2 linked regions of the Homo sapiens genome follow. The protein of the gene in region 1 interacts with the protein of each later gene in a pairwise test. Each region holds a gene or a part of one and is shown in the gene's direction. Other genes may lie near its edges. The genes, in order: CARD11 and PRKCD.

Region 1 (7,623 bases):
AAATTGCTCCAGACGTACTTAAAAGCTTTTCGATAACAAAATCAAGTGTTAGTTTTTGGATTTAGATTAAAAATAATTAAAATTGGCCAGGTGCAGTGGCTCATGCCTGTAATCCCAGCACTTTGGGAAGTCAAGGCAGGCGGATCACTGGAGGTCAGGAGTTCAAGAACAGCCTGGCCGTCATGGTGAAACCCAGTCTCTACTAAAAATACAAAAATCATCTGGGCGTGGTGGCAGGCGCCTATAATCCCAGCTACTCAGGAGGCTGAGGTAGGAGAATTGCTTGAACCCGGGAGGTGGAGGTTGCAGTGAGCCGAGATCGCACCACTGCACTCCAGCCTGGGCTACAGAGTAAGACTCCTTCTCTAATAATAATAATAATAATGGAAGAGAATTAAAAACTCGCTTCCTATTCTCACCAGCCTCCTGTCAAAGTGCTCAGCAGTCAAATGTGGCCAGTGGCTGTCACATTGGACCACACCGTTCTATGTCCTCATAAGGGCTTGGCTTACACAATATGTACATTTGTCAAAACTCATTGCATCATATAGTTTTTAAATCATTTATGTATGTATGTATGTATGTATGTATGTATTTGAGGTGGGGTCTTGCTCTGTCCCCCAGGCTGGAGTGCAGTAGTGCAATCACAGCTCACTGCAGCCTCGAACTCTTGGGCTCAAGCAATCTTCCCACCTCAGCCTCTGGAGTAGCTGAGACTACAAGCACCTGCCACCATCCCCAGCTTCACTGCATCATATGGTTAAAATCTGTTTGTAAATTTCACCTAAACAAACCTCTCTAGTGAATGGCATGCATGATGGAGTGTTTAACAGTGACGTGTACTGATGATGTCTGCAACTTACTTTGAAATACACCCAGAAAAAAGGACAGGAGGTTGGGAGGCCGAGGCGGGTGGATCACGAGGTCAGGAGATCGAGACCATGCTGGCTAACACGGTGAAACCTCCTCTCTACTAAAAATACAAAAAATTAGCCAGGCATGGTGGCGGGCGCCTGTAGTCCCAGCTACTTGGGAGGCTGAGGCAGGAGAATGGCATGAACCCGGGAGGCGGAACTTGCAGTGAGCCGAGATCGTGCCACTGTACTCCAGCCTGGGTGACAGAGTGAGACTCTGTCTCAAAAAAAAAAAAAAAAACAAAAAAAACAAAAAGGACGAGAGGATTGATGGAGAGATAGATGGATAGATCTGTGATAAAGCCAATATAGCAAAATGCTAGTTGTAGAATCAAGTGGTGGGGTATATGCGGATTCACTAGATGGTTCTTCTAACTTTTCTGAACATTTAAAATTTTTAATAAGATATTGGAGGAGAAACAGGCTTGTCTTAATGAACTAGACCCGCATGCAGTCCCATCTATAAAAGTCAGAAACATAACGCTGAGTGAAAGGGACCAGGCTGCCGAAAGAACGCATGCATGCTGCCGTTTACATGCAGTTCACAAACAGGCAAACTGACTGATGCTGTCAGAGGCAGGAATGTGCCTACCCTTGGTGGCGGAGTGACTGAAACGAGACACAAGGGGGTTTCTGGGGTGCAGATAAAGTTCCATGTTTTGATAGAATGAAGTGCGGGTGTGGGTTACACTCGCACTTGGGATAATGGCCTCCAGTTCCATCCAAGTTGCTGCAAAAATTCATGGGACTTTGCAGCATTTGTGTACTTTACTGCATACATATCTCTACAGACATGTTTCATTGTTTTAAGGCACTGCCCTCATTTCGTATCTTGCAGGAGGGAAATCTGAGCTCTTCTTTAAAATGACAGGCCAGATGCCGTGGCTCATGTCTGTAATCCTGACACTTTGGGAGGCCTGAGCGAGAGGATCACTTGAGGTCAGGAGTTCAAGACCAGCCTGGGCAACATAGTGAGACTTCATCTCTACAGAAAATTAAAAAATTAGCCAGGCGTGGTGGCGTGCACTTGTAGTCCCAGCTTCTCGAGAGGCCAAGGCGGGAGGATGGCTTGAGCCAAGGAGGTCAAAGCCGCAGTGAGCCTTGATCAAGCCACTGTACTCCAACCTGGGCAGCAGAGCGAGACCCTGTTTCAAAAATAATAAAATGAAATAAAATAAAATGCTTGCCGGGCGCATGGGCTCACACTTGTAATCCCAGCACTTTGGGAGGCCGAGGTGGGCGGATCATGAGGTCAGGAGTTAGAGACCAGCCTGACCAACATGGTAAAACCCCATCTCTACTAAAAATACAAAAATTAACCAGGTGTGGTGGTGCGTGCCTGTAATCCCAGCTACTCAGGAGGCTGAGGCAGGACGATCACTTGAACCCGGGAGGTGGAGGTTGCAGTGAGCCGAGATCGTGCCACTGCACTCCAGCCTGGGCAACAGAGTGAGACTCCATCCCAAATAAATAAATAAATAAATAAAATGCCACTGCCTGATTTAGAGGTTTCATGGAGTACAAGCAGCTTCCCCAGTCCCAGGTAGGCAGTGAGATGTATCCTTAGGGACCAAGGCCTAGAAGGCTGTGGGTCTTGGTGTTAGAAGGCTGTGGGTCTTGGTGTTCATTTTAGAAACTTTCTTTACGGCCCTTGCTTGCATTTCTGAACACGCTTTACAGGAAGCAAACTCGTGTCTTCCTTCATCCCTAGCACATGTGCATCAGTGCAAACAGACTCCTCACTGGTATTTCAGATTCTTCCGTGCTTGGACCAATGTCCCATTTTTTATTTATTGTCTTGCTGAAAATTTAATTTATTGAAGGCCTTTCCTTCTAGCAGCTCGAGGAACTTTTCTCAGAACACTTAAAACATGAAACAGAAGCCTACATTCTCTAGCCATAATGAGGGGATCAAAAGAGAGGGAGATAGATGAGAGGAGAATGGTAAACTGAGGCAGAGTAGAATGAGAGGTGCAGAGGCTGGGGCAACGGGGGGGCGGGCGGTGCAGGAGGCAGTGCAATTGCAGCAAGAGAATAGAAACTAAGGTTTTCTGGGTAGGCATGGCTCATCCAGATTTTTATTTCAATAGCTTTAGGGGTACTTGCGGTTTTGGGTTACGTGGATGAAGCGTATAGTGGTGAAGTCTGGGCTTTTAGTGCATCAGTCACTGGAATAGTGCACATTGTACAGTATACATTGTACCCAATAGGTGATTTTTCATCCCCTACCCCCTCCCATTCTTCCCCCTTCTGAGTCTCCAACGTCCATGATCCCACTCTGCCTGCCTTTGCCTACCCATAGCTTAGCTCTCGCTTTTAAATAAGAACATGTAGTATTTGGTTTTCCACTCCTGAGTTACTTCACTTAGGATAATGGCCTCCAGTTCCATCCAAGTTGCTGCAAAATACTTTATTTCGTTCTTTTTTATGGCTGAGTAGTATTGCATGGCGTGTGTGTGTGTATCACATTTTCTTTCATCCAGATTTTTGAGTCTGCAATCCATGTAAACCCTTGGGACCATCCCACCCATGACGATGGCCATTTGGGGTAAATTATTAAAATGATGACATCCAGCTGGGCGCAGAGGCTCATGCCTGTAATCCCAGCACTTTGGGAGGCTGAGGTGGGCATATCACTTGAGGTCAGGAGTTCGAGGCCAGCCTGGCCATCATGTTGAAACCCCATTTCTACTAAAAATACAAAAATTAGCCAAGTTTGGTGGTGCACGCCTGTGGTCCCAGCTACTCGGGAGGCTGAGGTGGGAGAATCGCTTGAACCCAGGAGGTGGAGCTTGCAGTGAGCTGAGATTGTGCCACTGCACTCCAGCCTGGGTGACAGAGCGAGACTCCATCTCAAAAAATAAAAATAAAGTAAAATGATGACATCCAAATCACAGTTTCTCTTACAAGTATACTTCACCGGAACATCGAGGGCACAAGCTGATGGTGGGTGTCTTGGACCCCAAAGCTGTCGGGGTGAGGAAGGCCTTTGAAGGGGTGCTGACCACCCGGCATGCCCAGGAAGCTTCCAGAACAGGGGCTGAGGGAGGAAAGAGGCTTGGGGTGTAGGAGGCTGCAGGATTTGATGTGGGGCACCCCGTTCCCCTCCCATTGCAGTGACAGGCTCTGGAATTTCTTCAGAAATTCAGCTAGATCTCGGGAGCCAGTGCCCTGGAGAACCTAGAAGGGAGAGAGCCCCTCCCAAGGCCCCACCTGGACTCTGCCGGGGGTCACGGCTGGGTGGGGACTGATGCCCAGACTGGTCCAGCCTCACCCCGACTGATGCAGGTGGGCTGGGCCCTGAGACTCGCCTTGGTCTCCCCATCTCCGGCTCCCTGATCTGTCCCCAAGCACCCCCACCCCCGGCCCTGTCCCCACTCCCACCCCCACCTCCTTGCCGCCCTCCTCCCGAAGCACCGACTCCGCCCCCTCCCTCTCTTCCTTATCTTTTTCTAACCTTTCGCATTTTTTAGTCTCATTTCCTGTCGGGTTTTGCATTTCCCTCCCCCGCCCCTCCCAGCCTATGACATACTTTCTCTCCTTTTTTCTCTCCTGCCTCCTCTGGCCTTCGGACTCCTGCCCGCGCCGCCCGCAGCCCCCTCCCGGCCCTGCAGCCCCTGGGCGGGCGGCGCCCCTCGGAGGACGGCTCCGGGCCCGGGGGGACGGAGGGCCTGGTCGCCTGGAGGAAGCCGGAGGCCTGCGTGGAGGAGGCGCCCCGCGCAGCTGGCTGGCGGAGCATGAGCGCCCCAGGTAGGCGCAGCGGGGATGGGGGAGCTGGCGGAGGGGGAGCACGAGGCGGGGAGTTGGGGGAAGAGAAGAGGGCACGGGGAGGAGATGGGGGGCATCAGTGAGATGACACGGTGGCGGGGGGGGCGTCGGGGGATGGGAGTGGCTCCCGCTGGTCCCGCGATGCTGGGGGTATCCTTCCCTCTCCATCTCTGTCCCCCTGCCCCCCTTCTCTCTCTCACTCTCCTCTCCCCTTTTTCCCTTCCAACCCTTTTTCTCCCTCACTTTCCACCTCGTGTGCCTCTCCTCCGTGTCTCTTTGAGCGTCTCTGAGTATCACCGCCCAGCAAAGCCCCCACCTCCTCCTACTGGACAGGAAAAAATCGGGGGTCAGGAGGCTGCAGCCCCTTGGTGCACCTGCCCCAGAGGGAGGAAGAGAAACTTTTCTGACACCTGAAAGGCCCGGAAGTTTGCAGACCACAGCCCAGCCTGACTCAGAGGCTCCTGGGAAGGTGGGGCCTGGCTCAGGGAGGAAGGGCAGCCGCACCAAAAGTGGGTGTGGAGCTGGGAGATGGGAGAGGACAGCCCCCCGCGGGGACTGTACTAGAAAGGGGGTGGCGGGGGCACAGGAGAGGGCCCAGGTTCCCGACTGAAACCCGGAGCAGGTCCTAGCGGCCTCAGGCCTGAAAGCCACCTCCCCCAGGAGGCCCCTCCAGGCCCGATGGGGCCACCAGGCCTTCTGCTGAGCCCCCTCTGCAGATAGGGGCAGAGAGGGTGTTTCTGTCCCTCGGGGGCTCTGAGCACCGCTGGAGGCTGTCACGGGGACCCAGGTTCATGGACAGTGGTCTCAGCTGTGAGCTTCGGGGCTGCCCACACAAACTTGGTCTTGGACCAAACTGACCTCTCTCTGCCTGGCCTGCTCTCAAAGCCTTTGATTTGTAGTTCAAAACATTTTCTCCTAATATTTATGACTCGTCTTGAAGGTATAAGGTTACCAACCTACCAGAAAGGGGAGAAAAATAGTCGATCGTTCATTCCACATTTATTGAGCGCTCAGCCTGTGCATAATGCGTGCCGGAAATCCCGGGAGCCGGGAATTGATATGAGGACAGGAATTTCTCCGTAAGTGTCCACTTCTGCGCTTTCGCGGAAACTCCGGTTCTCTCCCCAGCAAGGCATCTGTAAAGAGATGACACCCCTGCCTCAGGCCAGGGCTGCCCTGAGGAGCGCAACAGTGACCAGGACTCAGCGTAATTCAAGGCCAGGGAATGCTTGGACCCGTGTGGATGTTACTTGCCTGGGTATCAGATAGGCAGGCCGTGGCTCCACTGGCCCCAGCAGTCTTCTGTTAATGCATGAATGGTCCTTGATGTGATTTTTTTAAAAATCGTGGTGAAATACATGTGACATAAAATGAGCTCGCTGAACCACTTTGAAGCGCAGAGTTGAGTGCTGTTAAGCCCGTCCATGTTATCTTGCGGCCATCACCACCATCCAGCTCTTCCCAAACTGAAACTGTGTCCCCCGTTAAACAGCAGCTTCCTGGCCCCCTCCGTAGCCCCTGGCAGCCACCCTTCCCCGTTCTGTCTCTAGGAATCTGATGACTTTCGGGACCCCATATAAGGGGGCTCATACAACCTATGTCCTTCCTGTGCCTGGCTTATTTCTCTGAGCCTCACGTCCTCACGGTTCATCTGTGTTGTAGTCTGTGACTGAATCTCCTTCCCTTTTCAGGATGAATAATATTCTATTGTGCAGATAGACCATATTTTGTGTATCCGCTCATCCTTTATGTGATTTTAAAAAATGACTTCTGGACGGGCGCGGTGGCTCATGCCTGTAATCCCAGCACTTTGGGAGGCCAAGGCGGGCAGATCACCCGAGGACAGGAGTTCCAGACCAGCCTAGCTAAAGTGGAGAAACACTATCTCTACTAAAAATACCCACAAAAAATTAGCCCGGCGTGGTGGCGCACACCTGTAGTCCCAGCTACTTAGGAGGCTGAGGCAGGAGAATCCGTTTGAACTGGGGAGGCGGAGGTTGCAGTGAGCTGAGATCGTACCACTGCACTCCAGCCTGGGTGACAGAGCGTGACTCTGTCTCAAAAAAAAGACTTCTAAACCAAGCTCTTCTAAAGATGACACGCTTGTTTAAATCCATCAGTGGGCGTGTGTGAGTGGCTTTGTACTTGGTGCCGCAGGGGGCTCAGGAGGGATGTGAGAAGCAGCGCTCCACCCTGAGTAGGTTCATCACACAGTCTGTGTATACCGTGGTCAGAGTGTGGCTGAGACACACATGAGATGGTAAAGAATTAGGAGGAGTGGGAAGGGCAGCAGGGAGTGAGCTTGGGTGATGGTAGGACTCAGAAGGTCCAGGGATTCCTGGAAGGTTCCAGGCCGAGATGGTGCTGAAAATCTCAGGGAGGAAGGGCATCCCCACCAAAAGGGGGTGTGGAGCTGGGAGATGGGACAGGACAGCCACCTGTGGACACTGTACTAGGAAGGGGTTGGCAGGGTCACAAGAGGGCGCCCAGGTTCTAGGAGTCCAGGGGTTCGAGACCAGCCTGGGCAACATGGCGGGACCTTGTCTCTACAAAAAATACCAAAAAATTAGCCAGACATGGTGGTGTGCAGCTGTAGTCCCAGCTACTTGGGAGGCTGAGGCAGGAGGATCATTTGAGCCTGGGATGCGGAAGTTGCCGTGAGCTAAGATGGCGCCACTGCAGTCCAGCTTGGGCTACAGAGCAAGGCCCTGTATCAAAAAAAAAAAAAAAAAAAAAAAGAGGGGCAGTGTCTGGACTTCTTTATCCTATGCAGTGATTCTGGACCCTTCCGATAAAAGGCTTGCTTCCTGGGACTGAGGGGCTGTGTGACTGTGGCTTGGTGGTGGCTGGCAGAGGCCGTGGAGTTGAAGACGCACTTGTGATTGTAGCTCCTCATAGCATGTCGGGCATGAAAGGCCAAATAGGGTCCCGATTTTCAGAT
Region 2 (7,266 bases), on another chromosome or scaffold:
GCAACCTCCGCCTCCCGGGTTCAAGTGATTCTCCTGCCTCAGCCTCCCGAGTAGCTGGAATTACAGGCATGCACCACCACACCCAGCTAATTTTTAGTAGAGATGGCTTTTCACCATGTTGGTCAGGCTGGTCTCAAACTCCTGACCTCAGGCCATCTGCCTACCTTGGCCTCCCAAAGTGCTGGGATTACAGGCGTCAGCCACTGCGCCTGGCAAACCTCTCAGTTTTTAACACTGGCAACTGAGACTAGTGTGTGTGTGCATCATGTGGGCCAAACCCAATCATAGCAGAGCCCTGGGGGAGCGGGTCCCTGAGTGCTGCCCGTGACTGTTCCCGCTGGTCCCGCCCGGCCGCCTGGCCTCACCCCTCTGTGTGCACAGCCCCACTGCAGGCCCCACCATGGCGCCGTTCCTGCGCATCGCCTTCAACTCCTATGAGCTGGGCTCCCTGCAGGCCGAGGACGAGGCGAACCAGCCCTTCTGTGCCGTGAAGATGAAGGAGGCGCTCAGCACAGGTAGGCCTGGAGGCTGGACCCTGGAGAGGGGCTGGGAATCTGGGCCCAGCTGGAAGGACTGGAGGGGGCCTGGCCTTGTTCCCTGCAACCTCTGAAGGATTCTGCTCTTCCTCATCCTTGACTCCCTGCCCCACTCAGCTATGAAGGCAGAGGCCACTGAGTCGCTATAGGGCTGCAAACACTGGCCAAATTGAGCCCTCCTTGGAAGGCTTGGAGTTTCTGGTTCCTCCTCCCTGGTTGTTTTACCCAGCAATTTTTACATGTCCATTTGTGCCAGGGCCTGTGCGGGGCACTGAGGATACTGTCATGCTCCAGGACTAACCTGGCCCTGCCCTCATGGGGTTCATAGTCAGGTGGGGAAACCAGGCACGTCAAAAAGCAGTGAGTCCTGCAATAGGGAAGCCCAGAGAAGGCACCCTCTGAACCTGAGGTCAGGGAGGACTTCCTGGAGGAAGCACATACCTCACATCATTCCCTCTTGCTTTTGCCCTGGCCTGGTGAACCCCTATTTGTCCCTCAGGTCTCGGCTGAACTGTTCCTTCCTCTAGGAAATCTTCCCTGACCCTTAGGCTTGACCCTGTAGCACTACCAGCCTTGCCCTCTTCAGTCTCATCACAACTGTGACTTAACAGTTACTTGAGGAAGGAGTTGGTGCATTCGCCACCCGGGCCTGGGGATCCAGGAGGACAGGCCCTGGATGTAGCTTTTCTTTCAGCTGTGTTCTGCGCCTCGAATATTATGGCTGGCATGCAGGAGCTGTCAGCCCATGTTCCCTGCATGAATGCATAAGGGCAGGCGACATTTAAATGGAGCTGGAGCAAGAGGATCAGAGGAAGAGGGAACAGCAGGAACAAAGGCCTGGAGGGAGGACCTAGCAGGGTGCCCAAGGTAGTTCTGTGCTCTAGAGGACACTGGGGAACCACAGCAGGCCCTCAAGGCAGGAGAGTCGGGCAGATTCTGCCAGGGGAAGGCCGTGGAGGTCTACGAGGGAGGGACAGAGGGGCCATGGCCCAACCTTCTCTGCCTGGCCTTGTTGCAGAGCGTGGGAAAACACTGGTGCAGAAGAAGCCGACCATGTATCCTGAGTGGAAGTCGACGTTCGATGCCCACATCTATGAGGGGCGCGTCATCCAGATTGTGCTAATGCGGGCAGCAGAGGAGCCAGTGTCTGAGGTGACCGTGGGTGTGTCGGTGCTGGCCGAGCGCTGCAAGAAGAACAATGGCAAGGCTGAGTTCTGGGTAAGGGGCGCACGAGCCGTGCCGTGTGTGTGTGTGTGTGTGTCTGTGTGTGTGTGCATGCGTGCATGTGTGTGCGTGCACACACGCGGGCTTGGTCAGTGAGCACAGCTGAAGAGCACCGGGCCCTGTGCTGGCCACCAGTCCAGCCCTGTGGCCAACATGTCCTGGGTGTGAATCCTGGCTCTGCAATTCACCAGATTCCCAGCCTCTCTGAGCTTCTGCTTCCGCATCTGTTAAGGGAAGGCGCTACTAAATGTGCCTACCTCAGGGTCAGTTGTTCAAATGAAAGGAGCAGCTGGATGTACAGGGCTTATTGCAGAACCTGACACATAGCAGGTGCTAAAGACGGCCAACTTCCTTATTGTGACTACTTTTTCCTTTTTAATTTTGGAAAGGCAGGATATGCACATAGTAAAACATTTTTAACTGCATGAAAGGGTGTGTCCCTGCCCCAACACCAGGCCACCAGGCCTCCTTCCCAGAGGCACCCATTATCCCAGTTCTTTTTGGAATCTTCGCATATATTCTAGGCCTTGGCAGCCATTGAGGGGGCAACATAGTGATCTTTAACAGCAAGGAGGTGGGAGAAGGGGAGGCTGACGGTCTCATCTACTTACCTGCTGAAATGGAGACTCTGCACAAGCATGTGGCCACTTGGCCATGTGCAGCTGTGTGTTCTGGGTGGCCACAGGATGCCAGTGCTGGCAGAAGTCCCCTGGGGTTACATGTGGGATGTAACCAAGATGTCTCCACCAGGAAAGGCCCTGTGACCATTGGAGGCTCTGATCAGCCTCCTGCGAGGGGTGAGGGGGCTGGGATGGGAGAGAGGTTAACACAGGGCTGTACTGACCCTTGGCCAGTCAGGCAGGGACACAGAGGGGCCTCTGGCTGTGCTGTCTCCGCTCCCCCAAGGGAGGATATCAGTCACCAGGTCTAGGTCTTGGGGGAGGTGAGGGGATAGAGGCTCAGGTCCCACCCTCGAGACTGTCCAATCTGCATGAGGAGCCCTCGGCACAGAGGGAGGAGCAGCGTGTGTGCACGAGGATGAGTGTGTCTGTGTGTCTGTCTCTCTCCGCATGTGCACACGGGTAGGGGCCTCCATTCTAAGATCCTTGCTAAGGGAGCTGCAGCGGGTAGGGGTGGGGAATTTCCCTTCCCGCTCTATTCCCCAGCTATGTGTCTGGGCTGGGTGTGGGCTGGACCCTTTCACTTCCCTAAATGTAATAATACCCCTGGGTACAGGGTGGGGGTGGGGCTCAGGAGTGGGGCTCAGGCGGGGCCCTGCCCACACTGGGCAGACAAGTGTCTGGCTAGGCCTTGGGGGGCTGCCTTGGCCTTGGGGGACCAGCCATGGGGGTGGGTTCTGAGTTTGGCCTGGCCCAGGCTGCCCTCACTGACCTTGTTCTCCCCTGGCCTCTGGCCCCCAACAGCTGGACCTGCAGCCTCAGGCCAAGGTGTTGATGTCTGTTCAGTATTTCCTGGAGGACGTGGGTAAGAACTCCCTGGGGGTGGAGGGCTCCCTTGCCGGGTTCAGAGGCAGAGCCAGCACTGAGGTGTAGGGAAGCTGCTCCCTTCGGCAGAGCTGTCCAGGACCACCCTGGGAGGGACTGTAGGGGTGCCACCCCTTCCAGATACCAGGGCTGACTTCCCTACTCCATGGTCACCAGATTGCAAACAGTCTATGCGCAGTGAGGACGAGGCCAAGTTCCCAACGATGAACCGCCGCGGAGCCATCAAACAGGCCAAAATCCACTACATCAAGAACCATGAGTTTATCGCCACCTTCTTTGGGCAACCCACCTTCTGTTCTGTGTGCAAAGACTTTGTCTGGTGAGAACCGGCCATGCCCACTGGTGGTGGTGCAGGGTAGTGGGGGCCGATCCCGGTCCCCGCTCACTCACTTTGCCTGGGTTTTGCCTTTCAGGGGCCTCAACAAGCAAGGCTACAAATGCAGGCGTAAGTGTCTCCACAGGCCAGTTTGTACGTATGTACCCATGTGTGCTCACGTGTGCCAGTGCCTGTGTGTATGCCAGTGCCTGTGTGCGCTCAGAGAGTGTATGCACGTGAGTTTTCCCAGTGTAGATACAGCAGCTGAGTTCAGTGAGTGCTGGGGCTGGCTTGCTGCTGCTCTGGAAAACCAGTTCTGCGCATCTCTTCCCAGCTCCGCATTCAGTGACGGGGAGTTGGTGGATGGCAATTGGGCACAGTAGAGTATTCACGCAGAAACCAGCCCAGGCCATGCACCAGGCCTCTTTTCCTCGGAGAGGCAATGATAGGTCCTTTACTGGCACATAGTGGCTGCATGTGCTTCTGTGTAGATGTGGGTGTCTCTGAGTACACAGGTGTGAGCACACTCTGTCCCTGAGGGTGTATACACGAGGCGCCGCAGGCTGGAGTCAGACTGCCTGGGTTTGAATCCCAGCTCTACCACTTCCTAGCTATAGGGCCTTAGGCAAAGTTACTTAACCTCTCTGTGCCTCAGTTTCCTCATCTATAATTTTTTTTTTTTTGAGACTGAGTCTCATTCTGTTGCCCAAGCTAGAGTGCAGTTGTGCGATCTCAGCTCACTGTAACCTCCCTCTCCAAGGTTCAAGCGATTCTCTTGCCTTAGCCTCCTGAGTAGCTGGGATTACAGGCGTGCACCACCATGCCCGGCTAATTTTTGTATTTTTAGTAGAATAGGGGCTTTGTCATGTTGGCCAGGCTGGTCTCAAACTCCTGACCTCAAGTGACTCACCCACCTCAGCCTCCCAAAGTGCTGGGATTATAGGCGTGAGCCATCGTGCCTGGCCCTCATCTATAAATTAGATATAACTATAATGTATAATAGGGTCATTGTGAAGATCAAATGGAATAAGATATGTAAAGCTGTATTTTAAGTGCCTTCCACTGGTAGCCGCTCTGTGTAAGAAGTCTGTTATCATTATTACACATGCTTTGTGTGTATGTACAGGTGTCTGTTTTGAGGCGTGTCCATGTGCATGTGTAAGAGAGGGCATTTAGGAGCCGTTTGCTATCCCAGGGCTTGGAAGAACTGCCCCCGCTTCTCATATTGCGATGCCCTGTGCCCGCTAACTTCTGCCCACCTCCCTGCCCACTAGGACTCCTTCTTTCTAAGCCCCTGCAGATTGGCCTGTCCTCTCCGCCCCGTCCTCTCCAGGCTCCTCCTTCGAGGGCTGGCAGGAGGAAGACTCAAGCGCTGGGCCTCTGCGGGGTGAGGGTGTGGGCGGTCAGGAGAACGGTGGCTTTGTGTAGAGGGCTAGACTGGTCGGCAGGCACCAGCTCATAGACTCTGCCCCTCCCGGTGCTTTCCCTTCCCCCTCCTGGGCCTGTGCCTCTTCAAGAATGTAACGCTGCCATCCACAAGAAATGCATCGACAAGATCATCGGCAGATGCACTGGCACCGCGGCCAACAGCCGGGACACTATAGTGAGCCTGGGTCCGGGGCAGGGCTGGGGATCTGGGGGGCTTGGCCAGATGGGAGGGATTTGCACCCTCTCCCCACCCTCCCTGGGGAGCTTACCCTCCCTCCCCATTTTTCTTAGTCTTTCCTTGCCTCTCCCAGTGGAGCTCTCTTGGGATGTTGTTGTGCCCAGGGTTGGGGGAGAGCTAGGGGTTGAAGAAGAGGCTGGAGCTGGCACGTGACCCTCAGCCTGTGATACCCCCACCTCCAGTTCCAGAAAGAACGCTTCAACATCGACATGCCGCACCGCTTCAAGGTTCACAACTACATGAGCCCCACCTTCTGTGACCACTGCGGCAGCCTGCTCTGGGGACTGGTGAAGCAGGGATTAAAGTGTGAAGGTGCGTGCCACCCCGCCCCTGGGCTGCAGGAGGGGCACTCCCAGCTGGTGCTGCTGTGAATTCCAGCCACCTCACGCCACCCTCGCCTCCTCACCTGGAGACGGGCACCTCATTCAGGGACCTGATGAGGGTGAGGCCTTGGTGGACCCTCCCCACTGGCCTGACTGGCTCTGCCACTTACCTGCTGTGTGACCACAGGTGGGCGGCTCCACCCCTCTGAGCCATTTGGAGGAGAAAAGCAGGACCTAGAGAGTCCCTGTGAGGGGCCAGTGGGCAGAGGGTGCTGAAGCCAGGCCTGGTGCACACCGACAGGCGCCCAGACAGGCCTCCCCTGCCCTCTGCTTCACTTAGAGATGAGACAGAAGACCCTGGAGGGAAAGCGGCTTAAGTTGACCAGATGTTCTTTAAAGGGTTTCGAATTAGGTCCCTGTCTTCTGGTTTTTCCTTTTTCTTTAAATCATGAAAGATTGGCTGGGCGCGGTGGCTCACGTCTGTAATCCCAGCACTTTGGGAGGCCGAGGCGGGCGGATCATGAGGTTAGGAGATCGAGACCATCCTGGCTAACATGGTGAAACCCTGTCTCTACTAAAAAAATACAAAAAAATTAGCCTGGCGTGGTGGCGGGCGCCTGTAGTCCCAGCTGCTCGGGAGGCTGAGGCAGGAGAATGGCGTGAACCCAGGAGGCAGAGCTTGCAGTGAGCCGAAATCATGTCACTGTACTCCAGCCTGGGTGACAGAGTGAGACTCCGTCTCAACAACAACAACAACAACAACAACAACAACAACAAAAATCATGAAAGATTGAAATGCTTGGCCGGGCGTGGTGGCTCACACCTGTAATCCCAGCACTTTGGGAGGCCGAGGCAGGTGGATCACCTGAGGTGGGGAGTTCGAGACCAGCCTGGCTAACATGGAAAAACCCCGTCTCTACTAAAAATACAAAATTAGCCGGATATGGTGGCGCATGCCTGTAATCCCAGCTACTCAGGAGGCTGAGGCAGGAGAATCCCTTGAACCCAGGAGGCAGAGGTTGCGGTGAGCCGAGATTGCGCCACTGCACTCCAGCCTGGGCAATAAGAGGGAAACTCCATCTCAAAAAAAAAAAAAAAAGAGAGAGAGAGAGAGAGATCGAAGTATTTATGATGGCTTCAGATCAATGTTTTCCTAGAAACTGGAACCCAGCAGACCCCACTGAAGCCCTCCTTTCTCTTGCTCTCCTGCGCCTCTCCTACACTGCCCCCTGCCCTTGGCTGAGCTCTGAGACTGACAGCCCCGCTTCTCCCTCACCCCAGACTGCGGCATGAATGTGCACCATAAATGCCGGGAGAAGGTGGCCAACCTCTGCGGCATCAACCAGAAGCTTTTGGCTGAGGCCTTGAACCAAGTCACCCAGGTGGGCAGGTGCCATGGGGACCCTGGACACAGGGCAGTGGGGTCAGGGACAGTCAAGGCTTACAGCCACTGCTGGGGAGCCACAGACAGCCAGGATATATTTAGACCCAGGACTCTACTTCGGGAAGATGCAACTCAAGAATTTAGGCAGCAGAGGGAGGGGGGCTTTTTTTCATAAGAAATTCATTATTCAGGCAGTTCTTTACTTGAGGGTGAACCTGGGGACCACAGGAGTGGGTGTTGGAACACTTTGAACTAAGACTTTGGGTGTGGACGTTTGTATGTGGGGGGGGCTTGAGGGATGCCACAAAACCT

The links.
Region 2: the proteins of CARD11 (region 1) and PRKCD interact in binary tests that used the Homo sapiens proteins (3 or more experiments, as listed by UniProt).

Annotation. Positions count from the first base shown.
Region 1 is NC_000007.14:3,040,708-3,048,330, reverse strand, and holds the start of CARD11 (caspase recruitment domain-containing protein 11), read left to right. Parts: upstream 1-4,463; 5' UTR 4,464-4,664; intron 4,665-7,623. UniProt on the Homo sapiens protein: Adapter protein that plays a key role in adaptive immune response by transducing the activation of NF-kappa-B downstream of T-cell receptor (TCR) and B-cell receptor (BCR) engagement.
Region 2 is NC_000003.12:53,178,023-53,185,288, forward strand, and holds part of PRKCD (protein kinase C delta type), read left to right. Parts: intron 1-381; coding exon of another isoform or gene 382-400; coding exon 401-515; intron 516-1,554; coding exon 1,555-1,754; intron 1,755-3,184; coding exon 3,185-3,245; intron 3,246-3,421; coding exon 3,422-3,584; intron 3,585-3,678; coding exon 3,679-3,710; intron 3,711-5,098; coding exon 5,099-5,184; intron 5,185-5,429; coding exon 5,430-5,559; intron 5,560-6,851; coding exon 6,852-6,952; intron 6,953-7,266.